Linked DNA regions of Homo sapiens. The protein of the gene in region 2 purifies or fractionates together with the protein of the main gene of each other region. This does not show direct contact. Each region holds a gene or a part of one and is shown on either strand. Other genes may lie near its edges.

What was found.
Region 1: the proteins of SLC12A1 (region 2) and STK39 purify together in Homo sapiens (affinity purification with mass spectrometry; one large-scale study listed by BioGRID and IntAct). This does not show direct contact.
Region 3: the proteins of SLC12A1 (region 2) and TDRKH purify together in Homo sapiens (affinity purification with mass spectrometry; one large-scale study listed by BioGRID and IntAct). This does not show direct contact.
Region 4: the proteins of SLC12A1 (region 2) and DNAJC10 purify together in Homo sapiens (affinity purification with mass spectrometry; one large-scale study listed by BioGRID and IntAct). This does not show direct contact.
Region 5: the proteins of SLC12A1 (region 2) and ELOVL7 purify together in Homo sapiens (affinity purification with mass spectrometry; one large-scale study listed by BioGRID and IntAct). This does not show direct contact.
Region 6: the proteins of SLC12A1 (region 2) and RABGAP1 purify together in Homo sapiens (affinity purification with mass spectrometry; one large-scale study listed by BioGRID and IntAct). This does not show direct contact.
Region 7: the proteins of SLC12A1 (region 2) and FN3KRP purify together in Homo sapiens (affinity purification with mass spectrometry; one large-scale study listed by BioGRID and IntAct). This does not show direct contact.

Annotation. Positions count from the first base shown.
Region 1 is NC_000002.12:168,160,596-168,164,095, reverse strand, and holds part of STK39 (STE20/SPS1-related proline-alanine-rich protein kinase), read left to right. Parts: intron 1-215; coding exon 216-357; intron 358-363; exon of another isoform or gene 364-374; coding exon of another isoform or gene 375-454; intron 455-2,253; coding exon 2,254-2,309; intron 2,310-3,500. UniProt on the Homo sapiens protein: Effector serine/threonine-protein kinase component of the WNK-SPAK/OSR1 kinase cascade, which is involved in various processes, such as ion transport, response to hypertonic stress and blood pressure.
Region 2 is NC_000015.10:48,300,302-48,304,578, forward strand, and holds the end of SLC12A1 (solute carrier family 12 member 1), read left to right. Parts: intron 1-1,013; coding exon 1,014-1,081; intron 1,082-2,448; coding exon 2,449-2,584; 3' UTR 2,585-3,777; downstream 3,778-4,277. UniProt on the Homo sapiens protein: Renal sodium, potassium and chloride ion cotransporter that mediates the transepithelial NaCl reabsorption in the thick ascending limb and plays an essential role in the urinary concentration and volume regulation. Electrically silent transporter system.
Region 3 is NC_000001.11:151,773,501-151,777,000, forward strand, and holds part of TDRKH (tudor and KH domain-containing protein), read right to left. Parts: intron 3,100-3,500; coding exon 2,939-3,099; intron 2,769-2,938; coding exon 2,596-2,768; intron 2,385-2,595; coding exon 2,320-2,384; intron 2,044-2,319; coding exon 1,892-2,043; intron 1,667-1,891; coding exon 1,565-1,666; intron 1,307-1,564; coding exon 1,210-1,306; intron 1,005-1,209; coding exon 952-1,004; 3' UTR 1-951. UniProt on the Homo sapiens protein: Participates in the primary piRNA biogenesis pathway and is required during spermatogenesis to repress transposable elements and prevent their mobilization, which is essential for the germline integrity.
Region 4 is NC_000002.12:182,726,257-182,729,756, forward strand, and holds part of DNAJC10 (dnaJ homolog subfamily C member 10 isoform 1 precursor), read left to right. Parts: intron 1-2,319; coding exon 2,320-2,402; intron 2,403-2,606; coding exon 2,607-2,738; intron 2,739-3,500. UniProt on the Homo sapiens protein: Endoplasmic reticulum disulfide reductase involved both in the correct folding of proteins and degradation of misfolded proteins.
Region 5 is NC_000005.10:60,774,770-60,778,269, forward strand, and holds part of ELOVL7 (very long chain fatty acid elongase 7), read right to left. Parts: intron 1-3,500. UniProt on the Homo sapiens protein: Catalyzes the first and rate-limiting reaction of the four reactions that constitute the long-chain fatty acids elongation cycle.
Region 6 is NC_000009.12:122,944,020-122,947,519, forward strand, and holds part of RABGAP1 (rab GTPase-activating protein 1), read left to right. Parts: intron 1-1,312; exon of another isoform or gene 1,313-1,413; intron 1,414-3,500. UniProt on the Homo sapiens protein: May act as a GTPase-activating protein of RAB6A. May play a role in microtubule nucleation by centrosome. May participate in a RAB6A-mediated pathway involved in the metaphase-anaphase transition.
Region 7 is NC_000017.11:82,723,206-82,726,705, reverse strand, and holds part of FN3KRP (ketosamine-3-kinase), read right to left. Parts: intron 227-3,500; coding exon 104-226; intron 1-103.

The DNA.
Region 1 (3,500 bases), on a different chromosome or scaffold from region 2:
TTCTCGTTAAATTCACACTGAAAGTGCTCTTGCAAACTTGGATTTAGTGTTTTTGGTCATGGGGCCCCCATTCAATTGTTTGTTTGCCTTGGGAATATTTGCATTAAATAAAGCCCATATTTTGATGTTTCTATTAAATTTTATACATAATGGAGTCTTGTTCTGAAAAGGTGATGAAGGTGCTTATGTTTTAATTCTTCTGTTTGTCTACTTAGGTTCAATGTTGGATATCATAAAATACATTGTCAACCGAGGAGAACACAAGAATGGAGTTCTGGAAGAGGCAATAATAGCAACAATTCTTAAAGAGGTTTTGGAAGGCTTAGACTATCTACACAGAAACGGTCAGATTCACAGGTATGACCTCTGCAGAGATGTTTAAATTCAGATGTTCATATCTTAAAGAGGTTTTGGAAGGCTTAGACTGTCTACACAGAAACGGTCAGATTCACAGGTGTGACCTCTGCAGAGATGTTTAAATTCAGATGTTCATATCTTCAGCCCTAGTTTGTAAAGAATGTTAAGGAAACACATGTTGCAGGCAGGTATTGACATTACTTTAACTTAGTCTAAATAGATGGGAAAAAAGTACTTAAGAAAGAAACAAGAGAATAAATTTTGATGAATTATATTGGTATCCTTGGGATTGCTTCAGTTGCTTTCACTGAAATAAGAGTGGAATCTAAAAAGGACTACATGGACTCATTTAAAAAGATCAGTTTTGGTAACTACTCTTGAATTATACTAGTTGAACTAGACAGCATCTCTATCTTTCTAATACAAGCAAGACTATCCAAACATTGTACTATGTGAATTATTTTTGATGTGGTGGTGAGAGGGAAGGAAGAGGTACTCATCTTCTTTTGTGACATAAAATGTTAATTCTTTACATAGTCAAATCACATAGAATATGAGTGCTTGATGTTTCAAGTGAGTGAGTGCTACTTGGGCTCTTAGGAATTATTGCAAGTAAATAGCCATTTACCAGTAATACTAATAATGTAATTCTCCTACCCTGAAATTTATATTTAATTATTTCTACTATATTTTTCTTTTTCTTTTTTTTTTTGAGACAGAGTCTTGCTCTGTTGCCCAGGCTGGAGTGCAATGGTGTGATCTCAGCTCACTGCAACCTCTGCCTCCCGAGTTCAAGCAATTCTCCTGTCTCAGCCTCCCGAGTAGCTGGGATTACAGGCATGCGGCACCATGCCTGGCTAATTTTTGTATTTTTAGTAGAGATGGGGTTCACCATGTTGGCCAGGCTGGACTGACACTCTTGATCCCAGATGATCTGCCCACCTTAGCCTCCCAAAGTGCTAGGATTACAGGCGTGAGCCACTGTGGCTGGCCTATATTTTTCAATAATTAGAAAAAAGTTACTTTAGAAATCAAATTTATAAATTGCAAGTTGTCATTTTTCAAAGTACTAAGATTACACAGGTTTTATACGGTGAAGAAATATAATATCTATTATTATAATTAGTATTTATAATCAGTCTCTCACCAGAGAGAAGTTCATTTTTCAGAAAGATAATTAAGTTGGAATTGCATCCCAAATTTAAGTGGAAGTAGAGGAGCTTTACATAGACTGGGCTTTAATACTTGGTAGAATGACAGTAGTGTGAGTTTATGGGCAGTGTCTAACTCTGAAGCATAAAATAGAGAGTCTATTTACTGATGATTTAATTAAATTTGGATAATTATTTCATAGAAAATATTTCTTTCTAAAATCCTAACTCTCCCCCACGAGTAAACTATAAAGTGACAGGTGGATCCTTATACCTTTTTTTTTTTTTTTTTTTTTTTTTTGAGACCAAGTTTCACTCTTGTTGCCCAGGCTGGAGTGCAGTGGCACGGTGTTGGCTCACTGCAGCCTCCACCTCCCAGGTTCAAGTGATTCTTCTGCCTCAGCCTCCCAAGTAGCTGGGATTACAGGCACCTGCCACCATGCCCAACTAATTTTTATATTTTTAGTAGAGATGGGGTTTCACCATTTTTTCCAGGCTGGTCTCGAACTCCTGACCTCAGGTGCTCCACCCACCTTGGCCTCCCAAAGTGCTGGGATTACAGGCGTGAGCCACTGTGCCCAGCCTATCCTTATAACTTTTAAAATCTGTGCTATTATCTTAATATTTATGAAATTATTATGTCAAAGAGCTGCGTTGTATGATATGTTTTAAAATCTTCCTGAGTGAATCAATACACTATAAAGTCTGTACCCTACAATTTATTTTCTATTTTTTTTTCTAATAGGGATTTGAAAGCTGGTAATATTCTTCTGGGTGAGGATGGTTCAGTACAAATAGCAGGTAAAGCTGATAAATAGAAAAATTTTTTACTTGATTACGGAAGTGTTACAGTTTCAAGGAATGTAGAATCATTCCTGAGAAATGAATAAATGCATGTAATCTCTTTTCAGAATGATATTTACAGAATGTTTGGGTCCGAAGGATAACATATTTTCCTTATTGTTTTGATAAGTCATTAGATCATCCTGTGAAAAATGCCATTTTAGTACATAGCTTTTTGATAAAGAATAATTTTATTTTCAATTTTATTATGTTTTCTACCTTTCACATTTTATAATGGTAATACTCATATAACTTCAAGAAATGCACTTGTAAAAACATTTTTCGATAGGTTTGAAAATTTAAAACATCATACACATCAATTAAAAACTAATTTATTTCTTAAGAGGTATCTGAAAGAATTGTGAACATTAAAAATCTGGGCCTTATTTTGTTTTTAACTCTGACCCAACATGGCTATTCTTGACAAAGCTGGTAGGCTGGGGATGCAATGAATGTCTTTTACATGAACACACAATATCAGGTGAGCACCTTTCGTGTTCAAAGCCTCTATTTTGTTATTGGCCCTAGAGTAACCTTAAAGGCCTGGGATAAGATGTAGCCACGCCCATATTAACTCTTGCTTTACCCATGTCGTTGAAAGTCTGTCTCAGCAATCCTTTTAGCTTTCATGGTTTCTTGGGGGAGTGTTCTTGGCATTTTTTGGCTAGACAGTCATTCCCTCTACTGGAGTGACCCTGTCATTGCAGAGACGCGTAAGATGAGCCCACTTGTACCCATCACCTAGTTTCAATAATTATCAATCTTTGGCAATTCTTGATTCATCTGCTGCCCCCCACCCCCACCCCCCGACTCTGGTGCCTCTCCTCATCGTGGAGGCTGGATTTTGTTGTTGAGCCATCTGAGTTAGTGCTTTGTGTGTGCATATCTTGTCCTCATGAGTGGACCTTATCCCATAGGCTAAGGACAGTTTGAAAAAGTACTTCAGTTAAACAAGTAACAGCTAAGAGACATCTGTGGGCAAAGATTTCAAACTGTCCAGCCCCAAGCAGTCTAGTTGTTCAGAGTGCAGGCTCTGGTGTCAGCTGACTTGATCGAAATTCTGAGGCCACCACTTAGTAGCTGTACCACCTTGGGCAAGTTACCAAACCTTCTTAAGACTCAGTTTCCTTAAAGAAGGGTAAAAATATA
Region 2 (4,277 bases):
ATGATAGGAGTGAAACCCTGTTTAAAAAAAAAAAAAAGAGAGAGAGAAATCTTAGGATAAATGGGTTAATCAATTTAAAAGCTCTTCAGGTAGGATTTTGTTTTACTGGAACATGTGGGATTTTGGACAGTGAAGGAAGATAAGGGCCACCCTGAGACCCTGACCCCTGGGGCCCACGAGCTTCAGAGAGCCTCGCTTGGACTGACTGCCCACCATGCCCTACATAAACCACATTAGGAGCTGAACTTGAAAAAATTCGAGCAAGAAACGCTAAAAGCCTTTTAGATTTAGTGAAAAAAAAGAGACTGAACTAGAATTATAAAGTCTGTGTGTAACAAACTGCCCGGTTCTGACCAAGTTTTTTCATATAATTGAGCAAATCATGCATCTGAGCCTTGGTTTCTGAACCAGTGAAATACAATAAAAAATATTACTCTCATCACTGCAAAGTGGTTATTTTTCCAAGTGAGTCTTTTGGTGGCTTTTTAATTGAAAGCCCCCTCTGCTTACAGAATATTCAGAGAGCTTAAAGAAAGGCAGACTAGAATATAATTTATGTTCTTAGAGTATCAAATTGGTATAAAGATTCAATCGGTTTCTTTTTTAACAGAAAACCTATTGCCTCAAACTGGCCATTCCACTGTGCATAGGCATGGGCATATGCCACTGTGCCCATGGCAGGTTCATGAGGCTCCTTGTAGTGTAGGAAGAGGCCAGGGTAGGAGAAAACACCTTCTTTTTAGTGTTATCTATGTTGTTTGCTTCCCCTCTCCCTAGAATTTAATAAGCCACTATAGCACAATGAAAATCTTTGTACTGTGTCTTATTCTTTATATTTCTAAAATTTCTCATGAGGTTTTAAAACACCATAAGTTTCTAAGCCTGAAAAAGTAATTGTAATTTTTATACATTTTTTAAGATGAGATTTTCTGCTTGTTCATGATTTAAGAAAATAAATTCTCATTCATAATTCTGGTAGAACTGTACTCAACAAATCTGAATGTTGCCCACAGAGTTACCGCCAAGTTCGACTGAATGAACTCTTACAGGAGCACTCCAGAGCTGCTAATCTCATTGTCCTGTAAGTATCATTGCAAGCATTGAAGAACATTAGAAATAAATCTTAGGGTTAATGGGTTAATCCATTTAAAAGCTTGGGACTCTTCAGGTGGGAATTTTGTTTTGTTTTTGTGTTTTTTTTGGGGGGGGGAACACGTGGGATTCTTAGACAGTGAAGGAAGGTAAGTGCCACTCTGAGACCTTGACCCCTCAGGCCCATGAGCATCAGAGAGCCTCACTTGGACTTGCTGTCCACCATGCCTTATGAAGAGGCGTGTGCCCATCTAGTAAGACCATGCTCCAGGAATCTGAGACCCTGGATTTCTCTGCCTAACAGCCACAAGTCAGCGACCACAGCTCACGGGCCCCTTCCCTGAGTGGATGTCCCTGAGCCACTGTGCCCATGGCAGGTTCATGAGGCTCCCTGTACTGTAGGAAGAGGCCAGGGTAGGAGAAAAAGGCAGAGCCATTTCCATTTTCACTCTTTATGCTCTAGCCTTACAAATGTTAGGGTTGCGTCTACTGAAAATGTATGTTTGTTTACTTAAAGGTTGGTATTTAAACAAGAAAATCTCTAATGACTTCACATTTATACCTCATGAATTGACTCCTATGTATAAAGATAAATATATCTTCACGTAGTGTAGACTGGACAACTATCCATCAAAGACATTGTAGAATGGTCTGCTGGATTGGGTGGTAGGGTTCCAATAGATGGTTTCTGAGGTTTTTCCCAAATATAAGATATTTAAATTATTTGAAAAATCATTTACACCAAAAACGGGGGTAGGTATTAGCTGATCAAATTCCCTATTTAAAGGAAAGTGAAAATGTACATTTTTGTTTTGTCTTTACAATACCTAAGCCTGTTTTTCTGGTTTATAGATAGTATTACCTGAAAAATACATCAGTTTGCTATCTACAGTAAAAATAATTTTGGTGCTTTCATCTTGGGGTGGCGTAAAAATTAAGGCTGCCGGCCGGGCGCGGTGGCTCACGCCTGCAATCCCAGCACTTTGGGAGGCCGAGGCGGGTGGATCATGAGGTCAGGAGATCGAGACCATCCTGGCTAACAAGGTGAAACCCCGTCTCTACTAAAAATACAAAAAATTAGCCGGGCGCGGTGGCGGGCGCCTGTAGTCCCAGCTACTCGGGAGGCTGAGGCAGGAGAATGGCGTGAACCCGGGAAGCGGAGCTTGCAGTGAGCCGAGATTGTGCCACTGCAGTCCGCAGTCCGGCCTGGGCGACAGAGCGAGACTCCGTCTCAAAAAAAAAAAAAAAAAAAAAAAATTAAGGCTGCCAGTTATTAAATAGCTCAGAAATACTAGTGCCGTTACTACCTATAGTAATTTTCACTTTCATTTTTAAATTTTTCCTTCATGTCATTAGGAGCCTTCCCGTGGCAAGAAAGGGATCCATATCGGATTTGTTGTATATGGCTTGGTTGGAAATCCTCACAAAGAACCTCCCACCTGTCTTACTAGTTAGAGGAAATCACAAAAATGTCTTGACATTTTACTCTTAAAACATGAAAGATTGGAATACATTTTAACTTAATGTAATGCATAATTAAGAAACATGTTCCAGTACTTTATGTTGTAAATCTGATCTATGGATATGCAAACCTCTGGAGAGGATCCTACCAGATTCTACATACATTGCATAATTTTTATCAGTTAATGCGAGCTTTTTTTTCTCTTCTCAGCTTAAGGGGTTGTCAAAGCCAATGTTATCCCTAGAAAAACATTTTTGTCACTGCTGTTGATAAACAAGAAAATCAAGGAAACTCATGTTGGCTTATGCTCATGAAAACCACCAATGTGATTGTAAACTTCTCCAGACAAACTTAACCTTTTGTTTCTTAATTTTTTGTTTTGAGTGTTTGCTTCTCAGCCCTGGTATAGGTCTCAGCCCCACAGCAGGATCTCAATAAATGCTTATTGACAGGCTGGCATAGTAACCACAGGTGGTTATCAAAGGAAAAGACCAATAGGCTGGGGAACATAATTATGCTTGGCCCCCTCAGAGGCTTATACCTCCAAAGCAGATTTAAAAATCAGTAACTCAAAACTTTAAGAAGTAGTTGAGTCTACAAAATATTCAAAGCAGTTACCTAAATAAGGTTATTTAATGTAACAGATTATATACTTAAAGTGATCTGAGCAATCATTGATAACATATGGCTTAAATTTGCTGCTGCCTGAAAAGTATATTAACTAGATTAGAAGACACCATATACTCCAATAAAATGAAATATATTCTATTCTCAATATATAAACTTTAATTGTACTCCCTATCAAATATTTTGAAATTTCCATCACGGCATTACTTTGCATATTTTTTTCTAATTAAATGGTTAGTACAGATGAAATCTTTATAGATGACTACTTGAAAACTAAGTGCTACAAATTTTCAAACCATTATTAAGAAATATATCCTGAATCATATATTTAGTTACTTTCTATAGTGATTGTATGGATTTAAAAGAATAATTAAAATGTGAAGTTGAAAAACTTGTAAAATTTGGAATATACAGATACTGATTTTTTTCATTTTTGTTAGTATACCTATAATACATAATCACATTGACAAACCAATGAAAATATTGATTTTCTGATGAATGGCTTGATTTTTCTCCTTGACATGTTTTGACTGTTCATTCTAACTGAAAACATATATGGGAAAATATGAACCTGAAATAAAAGCACTCAAATTCAATTGCTTTGGCCTAGGTCATGTTTTTACTTTCAGTCACTAAAATTGTGGTGCAATGGTGTATCAGATGTGAGCCTGAAGATTTCAGTCAGTGGCCTCATCTGCAGCTGCTTAAAGCTAGGATTCAAGATCAGGACTTCCTAACCCAGCCTCTCTGCTCAGAAGGATGACCAGAGAATAAGGGAGACCATCAGCAAAGCTTAGGCAGCTGGATATTCCTATTCCAAATCCAGGGCCACTGTGCTTAACTCTGCCCTTGATAAAACCCTTTCTCTTGAGCACTATGGACCTGAAATCCAAATGCCTAAACTCAGCTTCATGTGGGCCTGACACTTCTCTGAAATACTTGAGGGTCTCTGGGAAAGGTGAGAAGTAATATGACTTCTTTAACAGGACATTCTGGCTCTTGTTTCTTTCCCGGCTGCTGCAAGTTGGGCTCCTTGGGAAACAGACTCTGAGACAAAGTTTAGCATGATCCCCTGGGGATCAACACCTGAGGGAAG
Region 3 (3,500 bases), on a different chromosome or scaffold from region 2:
GAGAACTTTATTCAGCAAAAAAATCCTCCAAATGATTCAAACAGGACTGTATACTCTTCCTCTCTCTCCACGGGTGTATATGTGTGTATACATATAGATATTATACTAGCAATTTAGAAAATTTCCTGAGCCTCCTGTCTCCTTTCTACTTATATTTTAACTAAAGGTTACAGAGAAATAGCTGGAGCAGTTTCAAAAGCCTGTCTCCAATAACATATCAGCAATTGAGGCTGGGAGGCAGTATTCTCTTCCCACTTCCTGAGGCTTTTAAATATAATTATGCTAATTTTTGCCTTTGCCTCCTGATTCAACTGGAGTCTTTGAGTTCACCACTCAAAAGCTTTCCTTAACCAGAGTCACCTGATAAGGTGAGTCAGAAGTCTGCAGAATCACTTCCAATGACGAAAGCCTGACTGTTTCCCAGCCTCAAAAAGGATACAGCCTAGTAGTAATGTGAATCATGACTGGTAGAGGGGACTGAGCCTGACGTTGAACGGCCTGGAAGTAACACAGCAGTATTCAAACACTGGAGGGTTGGGGAGGGATCCGGAGGTGGAATGGGGGAGACACACTTGTAGCGTGGTAGTCCAATTTTTTTGTAGTCTGATGGGAGGAGAATATTAATTTGGTCCACAGCAAGCCAGACTATATGTGTAATAAAGGAAGGACTGCATGGATCCTTTATCATACACTCCTCTCCTCCATGCACCAATTCCTATGCCAAATCCTGCCAAAGACAGAAATACACAAAAAGCTTGAAAGTGCTCAATCTGAGAGCAAGTTAAGCTGCAGGAAAGCAGCTGCAGAGAAGTATATTAAGACAGGGCATGGGAAAGAGGGAATCAAAGCAAGTGCCCCACTGTCGCCCTCATTACTTTCCTGTTGCTACAGATAGATGATAGCTGCACTCACACAGCAAAGCAGATGGCTGAGCAAACTGAAGCCCAGACTTCAGAGTAAGTAGTCATCTTCAAGGTTATCATCACCAGACATGGAAGCAGCTTCTATTGAAGATAAATAAGAAGGAGAAAGTTAGACACTGCCCTATTCTAGCAGGCAATGCCAGCGAGGCTCAAAAGAAAAATGGACCTCTTGGTACTCAATGACCTGACTAGGAACCAAGCCTTCAATTAACCTCCCTACTCTGGAAAGACTGAATGAGAAAAGTTAATCTCCAAAGATGCTCTAGGGAGGAAATACTGCTTGTACCTGATAAGCTGAGGCAGGACAGGGTATGTGTTATCTCTCCAGAGCTCTTTTTGGTCTCAGTGAGCAACGTGCTGAGAGAGGCATCTGTTTCTGTGGCCTGAGTGGATGAAAACAGGAAAAAAGGAGGAACATGTTGGCTTTTAGGAAAAAAGAGGCCACCCTTTCATTCTTCTCATAGGACCTGGTTAAGGCAGTTGCATTTGGCTACCAAGAGGGACAAAATGCTCCTTTGGTCAACTACTGGAGGAGCTCAAAGTCCTTAGGAAAGCTAACACAGTATCAGGACTAGAAGCCCTTAGTGTCTATGTGCTAGATTTGCCTGGAAGCAGCACCCTATATAACTACAATAGCTCACCATGTCCTTCAACATGTCTGGGACAGCTCTGTTTTCTTCTATGTCTTCAGGAAGCTCAATTGCGTATCCTTTGTGTACTAATTCTAGCCCAATATCAAGTTTCTGAGAAGAAAAATGAAAAGGGAATGATGTTCTCTCAGTAAGCAAGGGCAAATTTGAGGAAACAAGGCAGAAGGACTGATACTTTAAAGACATTCCTTTGGTGAGATGGTGAGAAGGATCTTACAGTAAGAGTAATATCAGATAAGGGTTTCTGAGGAAGAAAAAGTAAATTAGGCTATAAATATACTGAAGATATGGCAAGCAGTGAGTGAATGCCAGTCTTACCTTCCCATTGCTAGTATCATATAAGTAGATCTTTGGCCAAGTTGAGATCCCAGTCTGGACATAGCTAGAGATCTTGGCTACCAGAGGCTTCCAGTCAGCACAATGAGTGAGTCTATCAAACTCATCCAAAGCTTCCTCTTCCCACTGGTCACCTGGCAAAAGATTGTAGGGGTTACTGCTGATAGGGGTGGGGCTTATACCCTGGAGGGAAGTTGGAACTACCCTTTTCTACTCAGGAAGGCACCTGTGTCTTCTCTGGTTGGGTTGGGTCTGCCAGGCAAGTTTCTGGCTGCTGCTAGTGCTGGTGAGGAAAAGGCACCTGAGTCCCCAGAATTCAAAAAGCCTGGGAATGTGAGAATTCCTTCCAATGAACTGTATGAAGTTATTCTATTTGGAGGTAAGCTCAATAGATGGCATGACCAATTTACCTGAGGGAGCAATCCGTGCCAGACTACATTCTATTGCTTGAAATGGAAGGCTTAGGAAGTCACTCCTGAAGTAAAAGAAACTAAAATTAGAATCCTGGGGCCAAAAACATCTTCTTACATTGCTGCTTTCAGAAAGAACCAACTAACATGAGACGATAACCATCTGCTCTCTGTAAACAGGTTCCCTTCCAAATCCCCCTGACAACTGCCAACAGCTCACCACCCTATGGCCAGAACTGAGTCAGCAGTTGGGATTGAGCTGACCTCAGCACTGACCTGAGAGCCCTGAGGTCCTTCAGTGGGCAATCTCCATTATCTCCAAAGTCAACAAAATAGAGGTCCAAGTTCCCATTCTCCAAGGTGCCGAGGACCCGGGCTCGATACCAGGAACCATTTGTAGGTAAAGGTGCTGCTACAATGTCTCCTACATGCACAGTCAAGTCTTCAGGCTGTATGTGGGGAGGAGGAGAAAGGCAGAGAGTTACAAAGTGGTAGGCTCATAAACAGAATTGCAGGAGGAAGAAAGAAAAGTAGTTGCTCCACAGGGAAAGGAAGAGTACAATGAAAAAGATATGCCTTCTTTTCATTAAACCCCAGCCCTGTCCCTATGGCAACTCACCACACTATTCTCATAGTGCTGGGTCATCTCATTGACAAGCTTATCCAATTGCAGGCTGCGGGAGCCAACGATCTGGATCCAGAAGTGGTTAGGGTGCTCAGAAGCAGAAACGTAGACTTCTAGGTACTCATCAGCATGAAAACTGAAGTCAGGACTGGGGACTGAACACAGAGATAAGGATGGTGGCCACATCAGACCCATCTCTGGTTGGAATGAAGAGACTAACCAGGGTAGTGAGAGGTACAAATACCAATGGCTGTTACCATTTTAAAATGGCAGGAGAGGCAACTGGATGAATCAAACAAGAATATCCTAAAGAAAGATACTAAGCTATCCTTTGTACCTTTCCATGTAACTGAGTAATAACAGCTTACATTCTTTGTCATGTGCTACATAGTCAAATCGGTCACCAATTATACAGAAGGTAAACCTCCATATGCTAGCTACAGCATGGATCAGTAAAAAGGTATATGGACAGCAATCTTTACATGGACAGTGACGGACATGGACCTGTTCCAGATCCCATTCTACCACTGACTCTTTACATGACCCTGGACAAGTC
Region 4 (3,500 bases), on a different chromosome or scaffold from region 2:
GCTGCAATCTCATTATAATGATCTCATTATAATATAATTATCTCATTATAATAATCTCACCATGGGGCGGTGAGGAGTTGTTCCTTATGGATGAGCAGAGAAAGTGATTTCCTGAGATGGAACCTACTCCTGGTGAAGATCCTGTAAACAATGTTGATATGACAACAAAGGATTTAGAATATTACATAAACTTGGTTGATAAAACAGCAGCAGGGTTTGAGGCCAGTTTTGACTCCAATTTTGAAAGAAGTTCTACTGTGGGTCAGATGCCATCAAACAGCATTTCACGCTTCAGAGAAAATCTTTCAGGAAAGGAGACATCAATCAGTGTGGCAAACTTCATTGTCATCTCATTTTAAGAAATTGCCACAGCCACCCCAACCTTACACAACCACCACCCTGATCAGTCAGCACCCATCAACATCACGACATGCATGACTTGCTGAAAGGCTGAAATGACTGTTAGCATTTTTTACCAATAAAGTTATTTTTTGTTCCTTGGTTGGTTTGTCACCCCACCTGGAGAGTGCAGCAGCAGGATCATAGCTCATCACAGCCTTGAACTCCTGGGCTCAAGCAATCCTGCTGCCTCAGTCTCCCGACTAGCTGAGACTGCGGGCATGTGCCACCATGTCCAGCTATTTTTATAGAGACAGGGTCTTGCTGTGTTTCCCAGGCTGGTCTCAAACTCCTGGGCTCAAGTGATCCTCCTGTCTCAGCCTCCCAAAAGGCTAGATGACAAGCATGAGCCACTGCGCCCAGCCTATTTTCTAATTAAGGTATGTACATTGTTTTGTTTGTTTTTTTTTTTTAGACATAATGCTATTACATAATACACTGTATATAGTGTAAATATAACTTTTATATGCACTGGAAAACCAGAAAATTTGTGTGACTCCTTTATAGTGATACTTGCTATGTTGTGATTTGGAAACAAACCCACAATATCTGAGGTATGCCTGTTACCAGGGTAGGAGACATTTTTACTACAAGAAAGGTTTTGTGTCAAATACCATTCAAATTTGTTTTACAGCATATTTTTATTTAAGACTTATGAACAGTAATACCTTGTGTAATTATTGCTTTCTATTTTTATATAAAAATAACTACCTCATTACTTGTTTATAGCTGATAAGATAATCCCTTCTTTCATTAAAGTTTGCATTAATTCTGTTAATATTTTTACCTAAATTTGTACTGGTTTGTGGTCTAAACCAATATGGCAATTTTTTCGACCACCTCTATAGAATGGTCATTTGCCAGACTTTGAAAACATTGCCAAAGAACAGCCCATAGTCCTGAATTACACACTTTGCCTGTAATGTGTAGATTAACTGTTTTCCCACAGGTCTGTCTTATACTTGAAATGTAGGTGAACACTGAGTCCTGCACCTGTTTCTAATTAGCCTGAATTAGTTGCACGTATTTAGAATACCATGTGTGATTTAATGTCTTACTGTAATTTCTGAAATTTTTATTTTAAAATAATAAATTTTAACATGGAATTATATGGAAATCCTTTAACCAAAAGCAGATTAACCTCGCCTTTTTATCTTGAATGTGAAAGCACATTTTTACAATGTTAAATTTTTTAAGTGAGTAAAATTTGTAATTTGCATCAGGTCATTTTACAGATAAAATATAAAATGTACTATTGGCTAGATATTATATGTTGTTCAAATCTGTAATTTTAGCAAATATGTATTAATGTTTTGAATTGTTAAAAACCTCAACCTTTTCAAACAAAATGATTTTCCAAGGTAATGTCTTGTTTAGGGCTTAGATTAAATTTAATCCCCGCAATCCTTACTGTATTATGTAGGTCTCTTATTTTATTCTTTCAGAGTTTACAGTAGCTGTCAGAATTGACTAAACCTACTTAACCTGTGCTGCATGTAATAGAAGAGCTTAAATCTCAGTCACTCTTACTATTTGTCTTCTTTATTTCTCTCATGCACACAAACTCTTACGTGAGGTTTGGCTGCTATTTCTTGTGCCGTCACTTTTTACAACTTTATGGCCATATTTATCTTGCAGTTTGAGGCTGCTTCTTTTTCAAGTATGGGCGTAGGAGAGTTTTTTTAAAAAGCTATTGTTGGTTTGACATTTGAAATGTTTCTTGTGGAAAAAAAATTTTTAATTTTTTAAAAATGTCATTTATGTAGAAGATATAGAAAAACATCACACAGAAAATGAGAAAGACAATATGAAAATTGCATGACTTTTTAAAATTCTGATCTCCACAAAAAGTTTTTAACTAAAATATGCATGAACCTTTAATAAATAATTCTAAGTTGTTTGCATTTTATGTATTTTTAGATGCTGCTGTTAATTCTGGAGAACTGTGGTTTGTAAATTTTTACTCCCCAGGCTGTTCACACTGCCATGATTTAGCTCCCACAGTATGTATTTTTCACATCCTCATTACTAGTTTTATTTCTAATTGATCTGCAATTTATATGTTAGAATTTTTTTTTCTATGAATAGTAATCAAAAATAATTATCAAATACTTTAAATGTCTGGTTTAAAAATATATAGCTTGGAGTGTGTTCAAGGGAAGAAAAGTGGTCTTATCAGAGAAATATGTTTTCTTTTTCTGTCATAGTGGAGAGACTTTGCTAAAGAAGTGGATGGGTTACTTCGAATTGGAGCTGTTAACTGTGGTGATGATAGAATGCTTTGCCGAATGAAAGGAGTCAACAGCTATCCCAGCCTCTTCATTTTTCGGTCTGGAATGGTAAGGGATAAAGTTAGCATTTTTTAAATTTGTGAAACATTATGACAAGTTAAATAGTAGAGAAAATAACAGTATGTAGAATTTGCAGAACATTTTAAGTCTTGTTTTACAAGGTGCCATCTCACTAGTCTTCTGTAATAATAAACATTTTGGATTATGAATTTTTTTTTTTGAGATGGAGTCTCACTCTGTTGCCCAGGCTGGAGTGCAAGGGTGCAGTCTCGGCTCACTGCAACCTCTGCCTCCTGGGCTCAAGCAGTTCTCCTGCCTCAGCCTCCCGAGTAGCTGGGACTACAGGCACCCGCTCCCATGTCTGGCTAATTTTTGTATTTTTAGTAGAGACGGGGTTTCGCCATGTTGGCCAGGCTGGTCTTGAACTCCTGACCTTAGGTGATCTGCCCACCTCAGCCTCCCACAGTGCTGGGATTACAGGCGTGAGCCACAGTGCCTGGCAAAAAAAACACCATTGACTTTGCTATATTTTAAAATTAAATGTTTGCCAATTTCAGTTTCTGTCTTAAGGAACATAATTTATACAATATGTATATTGTATTTGGTAGTTTACAAAGTATTTTACAAGTGTTGTCTCATTGAATGTAAAGCTCTGATATCTTTTTTCTTAGTTTCCAGTGAGGAACCTGAACGATTATAAATGGTATTATTAAAATGTGTTCCATAGAATCTGTACTGTCAAGATTATCAGGATATCATTTGGAAATACATTCTGCTATTGAGAAATAGAGCTTTGCTGCATTATTCAAG
Region 5 (3,500 bases), on a different chromosome or scaffold from region 2:
TTTTTTTTTTTTTGAGACGGAGTCTTGCTCTTGTCGCCCAGGCTGGAATGCAATGGCATGATCTTGGTTCACTGCAACCTCTGCCTCCTGGGTTCAAGTGAATCTCCTGCCTCAGTCTCCTGAGGAGCTGGGATTACAGGTGCCCGCCACCATGCCCAGCTAATTTTTGTATTTTTAGTAGAGACAGGGTTTCACCTTGTTGGCCAGGCTGGTCTCAAACTCCTGACCTCGTGATCTGCCCACGTTGGCCTCCCAAAGTGCTGGGATTACAGGCATGAGCCACCACACCCAGCCAAAACTCTTATATTTGATAAATGAATTCAGTAAAGTTACAGGATACAAAATCAATGTATGAAAATCAGTAGCATTTCTATGCACCAAAGCATTATCCTTAAGAGCTTGGAACAGCTCTTCAACCCTCAAGCTGACAGCCAAATCAAGAATGCAATCCTATTTACAATAACCACAAGCACAAAAAATAAAACACATAGGAATACATCTAACCAAGGAAGTAAAAGATCTGTACAAGGAGCATTACAAAACACTGCTGAAAGAAATCATGGAAAATACAAATGGAAAAACATTCCATGCTCATGGATTAGAAAAATCAACATTGTTAGATGTCCATACTGTTCAAAACAATCTAAAGATTCAATGCTATTCCTATCAAATTACCAATGTTATTTTTTACAAAATTAGAAAAAACTATTCTCAAATTCATAGAAAACCAAAAATGAGCCCAAATAGCCAAAGCAATCTTAAGCAAAAAGAACAAAGCTGGAGGCATCACATTATCTTACTTCAAACTGTACTACACGGCTACAGTAACCAAAACAGCATGGTATTGATATAAAAATAGACACATCGGCCAATGGAACTGAACAGAAAACCCAGAAATAAAGGAGCATACCTAAAACCAACTGATATTCAACAAAGTCAATGAAAATAAGCAATGGGGAAAGGACTCCCTATTCAATAGATGGTGCTAGGAAAACTGGCTAATCATATGCAGAAGACTGAAACTGGACCACTACCTACCACCATACACAAAAATTAACTTAAGATGGATTAAAGACTTAAATGCAAGACCTAAAACTATAAAAATCCCAGGAGAAAACCTAACCTAGGAAACACTCTTCTGGACACTGGCCTTGGCAAAGGCTTTATGACCAAGTCCTCAAAAGCAATTGCAACACAAATAAAAATCAACAATTAAGACCTAATTAAACTAAAGAGCTTTTGCACAGCAAAAGAAACTAACAGAGTAAACAGACAACCTATGGACTGGGAGAAAACACAAACTATGCATCCAACAGGACTAATATCCAGAATCCACAAGAAACTTAAATCAACAAGAAAAAATAAATAACTTCATTAAAAAGTGGGCAAAGAGCATGAACAGACACTTCACAAAAGAAGACATACAAGCGGCCAACAAACATTAAAAAGTCAAATAATTACAGAAGTTGTTGAGGCTGTGGAGAAAAGGGAATGCTTATACACTGTTGGTGGAAATGCAAATTAGTTCAGCCATTGTGGAAAGCAGTTTGGAGATTTCTCAAAAAACTGCAAATAGAACTATTATTCAACCCAGCAATTCCACTATTAGGTACATACTGAAAGGAAAATGCCAAAAATATACATACACTTGCATGTTCACTGCAGGACTATTCATAACAGCAAAGACATGTAATCAACCTAGGTGCCCATTAATGGTGGATTGGATAAAGAAAATGTGGTACATATATACTGTGGAGTACTATGCAGTCATTAAAAAGAACAAAATCATATCCTTTGCAGCAACATGAACGTAGTTGGAGACCATTATCCTAAGCAAATGAACACAGAAATGCAAAACCAAATGCTACATGTTCTCACTTATAAGTGGGAGCTAAGTCTTGGGTACATGCAGGTATAGATGGGAACAACAGACTGAAGAATCCAAAATGTGGGAGGGAAGGAAGGGGACAAGGGCTGAAAAACATACTTTTAAGTACTATGTTCACTATATTCATGATGCAATCACTAGAAGCCCAAACCTCAGCATCAGACAATATAGCCTAGTTATAAACTTGCACGTGTACCACCTGAATCTAAAATAAAAATTTTAAAAACAGGTAGTGATAGTGACAGATAAATAGGAGATTATTTTGAAATACAGTAAGGAAGAAGAAAATATAAAAATTTATAATTGGTTAAACACAGGGAATGGAAATAGGTAAATGTTAAGAAAAATATTCAGATTTCTCACTTATATGTGGGATGTAAGAATCAAAACAATTAAGTCCATGGAGATAGAGTAGAAGGGTGGTTGCCAGAGGCTAGGAAGGGTACTAGGGGGGTTGGGGGGGAGGTGGGAATAGCTAATGGGTACAAAGAAAATAGAATGAATAAGACCTAGTATTTGGTGGCACGACAGGCTGACTTATAGTCAATAATAATTTAAATGTATGTTTTAAAATATAATTGGATTATTTGTAACCCAAAGGATAAATGCTTGAGGGGATGGATACCCCCATTTTACATGATATAATTATTACATATTGCATGCCTGTATCAAAACATCTTATGTATTCCATAAATATATACACCTACTATTTACCCGCAAAAATTAAAAAAAAAATTTTTAAAAGAAAAATACTCAGATCTTTAAATTCACTTAGATTGGGAACACAGGATTAGGAGCAATATTGGTCAAGCAGAGGTGGCTTATGTTTTAAAACATCTTACACTTAGACTGCCTTTAAAACATTCATATGAAGTCTTTCATAAGCAGCTGGATATATGGATCTAGAATTAGGAGAGAGATCTGTGCCAGAGATATAAGATTGAGGGTTGCCATCACATAAATGATGAACAATAAAAGCAGTGAGATTGGCTTAGGCTAAGTGGGTACAGTAAGGAGAGTAAGTGCTGAAGTCAGGATCCTGAGGACTCAGCATTCACAGAAGGAATTACTGAAGGAAAAAACATAAAAACCAAAAAGGAACAGCTAGAGAAGTAGAGGGAAAACCATAAAAGTGAGATATCCTGAAGCCAGGGAAGAGTGGATTTTCGGAAGGAGTCAAAGCATTAAGTGTGGCAGAAAGGGGAAATAAAATGGGGACAGAAAAATGCCACTACATTTAACAAAAGGACGTCTCTGATGCTCTCAGCAGAATAATTTTAACAAGGTGTCATGCACAAAATAGAAATTAAACAAAAGTTTGATGACAGACACTTTTCAAAACATAAAGTTCTATAATTTCGGAAGTATTTTCTCATATTAAGATTTGTCACAGTTCTAAATCAGGAAAAACTTTGAAATCAGCTACCCAGGTACACATCACTGAAATCTTTTACTGCTTCTATTGGTTCCCCTCCTTGCTTTTAACAATGGCAAGCTTTCTAGGATGTCTCGTTGTTTTGTGCAATTAAAACCACCACAAGGAAGGCTTGCTATGGGTCTGTATGTCACAAAGGAAGTCTCCATAAATAAAAGTTGTCACAGAACCAGGGAC
Region 6 (3,500 bases), on a different chromosome or scaffold from region 2:
TCTCATTATTTCCCAGTAGTTTTAACAAGGAATTTTTGAATACAGTTTTCAGAAAATAGTTTAAATTGGTGCTACAGGTGAGTATCTTTGTAAAAACACTGGTTTGCTAAGGTTCTGACATAGGCTGCCCATAATGTTATCTTTGTAATTTCAATATAATCAGGTATCAGTAGACTTCTCAAGCATGTGGAATAAATGAATACAACACACTTTTTTTTTTTTTTAAAAGAGATAGGGTTTTGTTCTCTTTCCCAGGCTGGAGTGCAGTAGTGCTGTCGTAGCTCACCTCAACCTTGAACTTCTGGGCACCAGTGATCCTCCTGCTTCAGCCTCCCAAGTAGCTAGGACTGCAGGCACATGCGACCACACCCAGTGAATTTTGCTATTGTTTGTAGAGACTGGGTTTCACTGTGTGGCCCAAGCTGTTATCAAACACCTGGCCTCAAGCAATCCTCCCACTCTGGCCTCCCAACGTGACAACACTCTTAAATAATCTTTGTTTGTTTCTTTTTTTTTTCTTCTTTTGAAACGGAGTCTCACTCTGTCGCCCAGGCTGGAGTGTGGCGGCACGATATCAGCTCACTGCATCCTCCCAGGCTGGAGTGCAGTGGCGTGATCTCGGCTCACTGCAACCTCCGCCTTCCGGGTTTAAGAGGTTCTCCTGCCTCAGCTTCCCGAGTAGCTGGGACTACAGGCGCGCACCACCACACCCAGATAATTTTTTTTTTTTTATTTTTAGTAGAGACGGGTTTTCACTATGTTGGCCAGGCTGGTCTCGAACTCCTGACCTCAGGTAATCCACCTGCCTCGGCCTCCCAAAATGATAGGATTACAAGAGAAAGCCACCGCGCCCGGCCTAAATAATCTTTCTTAGCAAGACTATACTTCAGGGATCGTTCCTATAGTTTGTTAAATAATGTTTCTTGGAGATAGAACTCAAATATTTAAGAAGTGCTCATTTAAGGTACGTAAAGCAGAATTTGGCATGACATTTTGGTGCTTTGTATGTAGTTACCTTGTTTTACTGAGTTTACATAGTTAGATCCCACTGAAAAAAAATTCAAGGCTCAGGACTTAATGCCCGTGAGTATGCCTGGAAAAACACCATGTATACATCATAGCTGTTGCTTTTTTTTTTTTTTTTAGCATAAACTGGTTACCTAGTCATCCCAACCACCCTCACCCCTCTGTTTTGTGTTGATCCTGAGATCATTATTCTTTAGAAACTTTGTAACAATATTGGATAGACGTTTAAGCTTACATTGTAACCATTCACGTTGACCCTAACAGCCTTGTTTCTCTTCATGTGCAGACTGACCAAATATGGAAGTGTGCAAGTCTTGAACACATTAGTTTATACAATGTGGCCTGAAAGTTTCCCTCCTCTTTCCAAATCAACCATAATATTCTGAGGTACTCAGTGAGAATTTTTTGAAGATTGTTTTCTATCAGACTTTTCCCCCTAAATCCCTTTTTCTGATCACTATACAGTGAAATAAAGCCCTAAACCTACTTTTAAGCTCCTGCCTGACATTAAATAGTATGTATGTATTATCTTGGTTGTAAAGTATGAGAAATATATCTTCTTAATTGTGTACCTCTCCAAGAATTAATGCATAGTTGTTATGTATTTCCTGTTAAGGTTGCATCAGCATTTGTGTTATAAACTACTACTCCTTGGGTTCTGTAAGTCTTTGTGGAAATAAATTTTTCTCTGTACCTAAATCTGGCATTTCTGAAGGTACATTAGCAAGTGAGTTTCTGTGGTAACTTTAACATAATGTTACTAAGTCAAACTTTAACAACAATTTGACTGTTTTAAAACTTTCTCCCTTTTTCCCTTATTTATGCATTTTGGTAACTAACCAACAACCTATGGTTTATAATTTTGTTTTCCATTTTCTGAGGATGATCTTTTATCAGTTAAGGAAATGATATGCAGAATCCTTTGGGAATATATTTTATTTTTTAAGACTACTAAAGTGCAGTAGTGAGAACGGGGAAAAGAGTAGAACAAGGAGTTTGTTCTGTAACTGACTGAACAATCGAGATAACTCACTGTCTTTGGACCAGCTTTGGGAGTATATTTTAACTATCATGAAGGATAATACGAGATAGCATACTGGAAGGCACAGAAAACACGTATCTTCTGCCAAACATTCATGGTTTGCCTACATGCATTCCCCTGAAAATCAAACAGGTCATAGAAAAGACAAATTATATTTCTGCATTTATCTTAGACTTTGATCATCTGTTGAATGATTTGCCTGCTGAGTTTTAAATTCATGTAGATTAAAGAGAAGTGAATAATACATTTTAGATCTGAATGTAAACAGATGCATATTCTAAGTGGAATAGATTCATTTTCTTTATTGTAGATGAGAAGGAACTATATTGACTAATTTCCTAAAAAGAGGAAAAGTCTTTGACTAACCCTGCGTTGCTTAAAAATACTCATATTTTTACATTTATTAAATGCTAATGTAAATTATACTGTAGAAATCTGAACAGTTTTTAAAATCTGTACTAGCAAGTCAGGAATATAATCTGACCTTGTGAATGAGTAGTACATTAACATTAAGCTGACTTTCCCTGTGTTCCCAGGGATAGCTTCTATTGTGGACGTGGAATCCAAATAACAATTTAAATATTTAGTTTCACAGATATTGTGTTGAAATGGCATTAAGCCAGCATATGTAGAGTTCTGGAAAAAATTAAAGTGTGTTTCCTGAAATATCCATGGGAACATGAGAAAACCATTGGCAAGATTTTTTTCAGGTGTCAGCATTATCACACTCATAATTAACAGAGTTAAATGAACTCTGTTTTATGCACATTTCATCCCTACTTGTTACCTCTTGTACCTTTCATTAGAAGTATGAAGTATCAAGATATAGTGGGGAGAGTATGAACTTTGGGGTGAGAAAGACATGGATATCCCAAGTCTCTGAGAAGGAGTGATTAAGTAGCTTATCCTCAGAAACTCCATTTTTAAACATGGAGCTACTTACATCTACCTCATGGAACTGTAATGGAAAACACCTGATATCCCCCCTAAAGACCCTATAAAGTTATAATTATTTTGAAACTTACTTTTATTGAAGGATAAATGTGGCATACATACATTGAAATATTATTCAGCCTTAGGGAAATTGTGACACATGCTACAATATGAATAAACCTTGAAGACTTATACTAAATGAAATAAACCAGTTATGAAATGATAAATATTGTGTAATTCCACTGCTTATATGATACACCTAGAGTAGTCAATTTCTTAGAGATGGAAAGTAGAATAGTGGTTTTTGGAGGAGGAAGAGAATAGGGAATTAGTGTTAATGGGCACAGAGTTAAGAAAGGAAATGTTCCAAGGATAGATGATGGTGATGGTTGCATGACAATGTAAATGTATTTAATGACACAAAATTGTACACTTCCGTGGCTAAGATGGTAATGTTTGTGTTATTACTTAATCACAATGCAAAAAGATTACAACTTAT
Region 7 (3,500 bases), on a different chromosome or scaffold from region 2:
CAGAATCAGACTCAGAGGTGGCCTCACCTGCCTTGGTGCCTCCCCTACCTCAGGCAAGTGGGGTGTGTGGCAGGTGCTGGGCATGCAGTGGGGCCCCACTCACCTGCAGAGCAGACCAAAGCTGGAGGGCCTCCCTGTCCCCAGACTCCTTCTCCACCATGTCCATCTGGGGCTGAATGCGCTGCCGGGCATAGAACACGACCCAGTCCTCCTGCCAGTCATTCACCTGCACAGTAACAGCAAAAGCACAGTTCACTGGAAAATGCCAGAACCAAGGGAGAGCTCAGCTACCCACAAGCATCTCAAAGTGGAGAGGGCTGCAGGAGCGGCACGTGGGAGGGGTGGCAGTCACAGGAGCCTGAGGGGGGAACCACATCCCAGGAGGAACCGGAGTCTCATGGACATGCTGAGACCTCAGATCCTATCCCAAGAGCAGTGGGAAGCATGGGGATGCTTCAGGACCCACTCTGTAGCCTTCCAAGAATGAAGGCTTCTAGAACATTTTTTTTTCTTTTTCTTTTTTCTGAGATAGAGTTTCGCTCTCATTGCCCAGGCTGGAGTGCAGTGGCGCCATCTCGGCTCACTGCAACCTCTGCCTCCCGGGTTCAAGCAATTCTCCTGCCTCAGCCTCCCAAGTAGCTGGGATTACAAGCATGCACCACCACGCCCGGCTAATTTTTTTGTATTTTTAGTAGAGACGGGGTTTCGCCATGTTGGTCAGGCTGGTCTCAAACTCCTGACCTCAGGTGATCTGCCCGCTTCAGCCTCTCAAAGTGCTGGGATTACGGGCGGGCGTGGGCCACTGCACCTGGCCCTGCTCCCACTTTCTTTACGTTGTTTTGTAGCAGCTGACAATAGTTCATCAGATGATGCACCAGGACTTCACCCAGTGCTCCTCTGGATTTTCCTTGTCATAGTACCAAGAGTGGCACAGCAAATACCCTTGTGTCTGTGCCATTTTGCATACGTGTAAATATGCCTGTAGAATAAATCCTAAAGGATAATTACTGGGTCAGAGCATAAGTCCATTTAAAATTTTGAAAGGGGGGCCAGGTGTGGTGGCTCATGCTTGTACTAAAAATACAAAAATTAGCCGGACGTGGTGGTGGGCGCCTGTAATCCCAGTCACACAGGAGGCTGAGGCAGGAGAACTGATTGAACCCGGAAGCTGGAGGTTGCAGTGAGCCAAGATCGCACCACTGCACTCTAGCCTGGGTGACAGCGAGACTCCATTTCAAAAAAATAAATTAAATAAATTAAAAAATTTGAAAGGGGGCTGGGAGTGGTGAGCAATATCTGTAATCCCAGCATTTTGCGTGGCTGAGGTGGGAGGATCACTTGAGCCCAGGAGTTTGAGACCAGCCTGGGCAACATAGTGAGACCCCTGTCTCTACAAAAAAAATTAAAAAATTAGCCAAGTGTGGTGGTGTATGCCTGTAGTCCCAGCTACATGGGAGGCTGGGGCAGGAGGATGGCTTGAGCCCAGAAAGTTTGAGGCTGCAGTGAGCTATGATCATGCCACTGCTCTCCAGCCTGGGCAACAGAGAGAGACTCTATCTTTTAAAATTAAAATTAAAACTAAATTTTAAATTTTTGGCCAGGCACGGTGGCTCATGCCTGTAATCCCAGCACCTTGGGAGGTTGAGGCAAGCAGATCACAAGGCCAGGAGATTGAGACTGTCCTGGCTAACACGGTGGAACCCCATCTCTACTAAAAATACAAAAAAAAATTAGCCGGGCATGGTGACAGGCACCTGTAGTCCCAGCTACTCAGGAGGCTGAGGCAGAAGAATGGCGTGAACCTGGGAGGCGGAACTTGCAGTGAGCCAAGATCGCACCACTGCACTCCAGCCTGGGTGACAGAGCGAGACTCCATCTCAAAAAAAAAATTTTTTTTTTGATAGGCATTGCCACGTTGCTGCCCATAAAGATCGTTGTCCCAAGTCACACTCACATCACAGGGTGCCATGGGGCCTGCTCCCTCGTGCTCTGGTTGGCACACATGCAGCACACTTTTGGCCTTTACAGGTTCCATATGTAACAGAAGATATCTGACTGTACTACCTTTTAGTTTACTTTTTACTTTTTTTTTTTCTTTTTTGAGATGAAGTTTCACTCTTGTCACCCAGGCTGGAGTGCAATGGCGTGATTTCAGCTCACTGCAATCTCTGTCTCCCGGGTTCAAGCGATTCTCCTGCCTCAGCCCCCAGAGTAGCTGGGATTACAGGTGCGCACCACCATGCCCGGCTAATTTTTGTATTTTTAGTAGAGACAGGATTTCACCATGTTGGTCAGGCTGGTCTCAAACTCTACCTCACGTGATCTGCCCGCCTCGGCCTCCCAAAGTGCTGAGATTACAGGCGTGAGCCACCGTGCCCGGTCCAGAACATTTTCTTTCTTTTTCATCTTTGTGAAACAAGGTCTTGCTCCATTACCCAAGCTGGAGTGCAGTGGTGCAATCACAGCTCACTGCAGCCTTCAATTCCCAGGCTTAAGCAATCCTCCCACCTCAGCCTTCCAAGTGGCTGGAACTACAGGCACGCACCACCACACCCTGCTAATTTTTTGTATTTTTACTAGAGAGAGGGTTTCACCATGTTGGCCAGGCTGGTCTCGAACTGCTGGGCTCAAGCAATCCTCCCACCTCGGCCTCCCAAAGTGCTGGAATTACAGGCATGAACCACCAGGGCTTTTTTATTTAAAAAAAAAAATTTTTTTTTTGCTGCTAAAGCAACTGGCTAACATTTCCTCTTAATTTACAATCACACTGGAGTACTGAGGCCAGAGCTGGCTGACCTGCCCCAACCCCATGGCTCACTTCTGACATCTGTCCAGACAGCCCCTCCCCAGACAGTGATGACAGGAAAAGTCACATGGAGCCCCATTGAGAAGGACCCCGAGAAAGGACATCCAGGTCACAGGTGCTTACCACCCAGGAGGGAAGCAAGACAGACACACACGACTGGAGTAGCACACGACGCCAACATCATGCATCAGGCACACAGTCATGCGCACACACGCCTGCACACATACATGTGCGCGCACACGCGTACACACATGCACACACGTGTGCACACATACACATATGCACACATGCGTGCACATACACATGCACACATATGCACACACATGCACACACATACACATATGCGCACAGACGTGCGTGCACACAAATACACATATGCACACACACACATGCACACACACACTGTGAGTACAGCCACGAGACGAAGGGGCGGAGCTGGCGAAAACCCCCCACCCCCCGCCAGCAGGCAGGACCAGAGGGCACCACTCCCCGCCCCTAAGCAGGTTTCTGAACAAACTTCAACATTTCAAAGTCTTTCTACTGCCCCCGCGCCCGCCAGGAAACCCTGGCAAGTTTTCTGGGTTCATCTGTACCCTCCTCTCGAGGACAGGACAGGAGCCCTGTCCACTGCACATGTGCTGGGCGTCAAGCAGAACTCCCCAGGTGGAAATGCGGAGGGAAGCCACCATAAAAT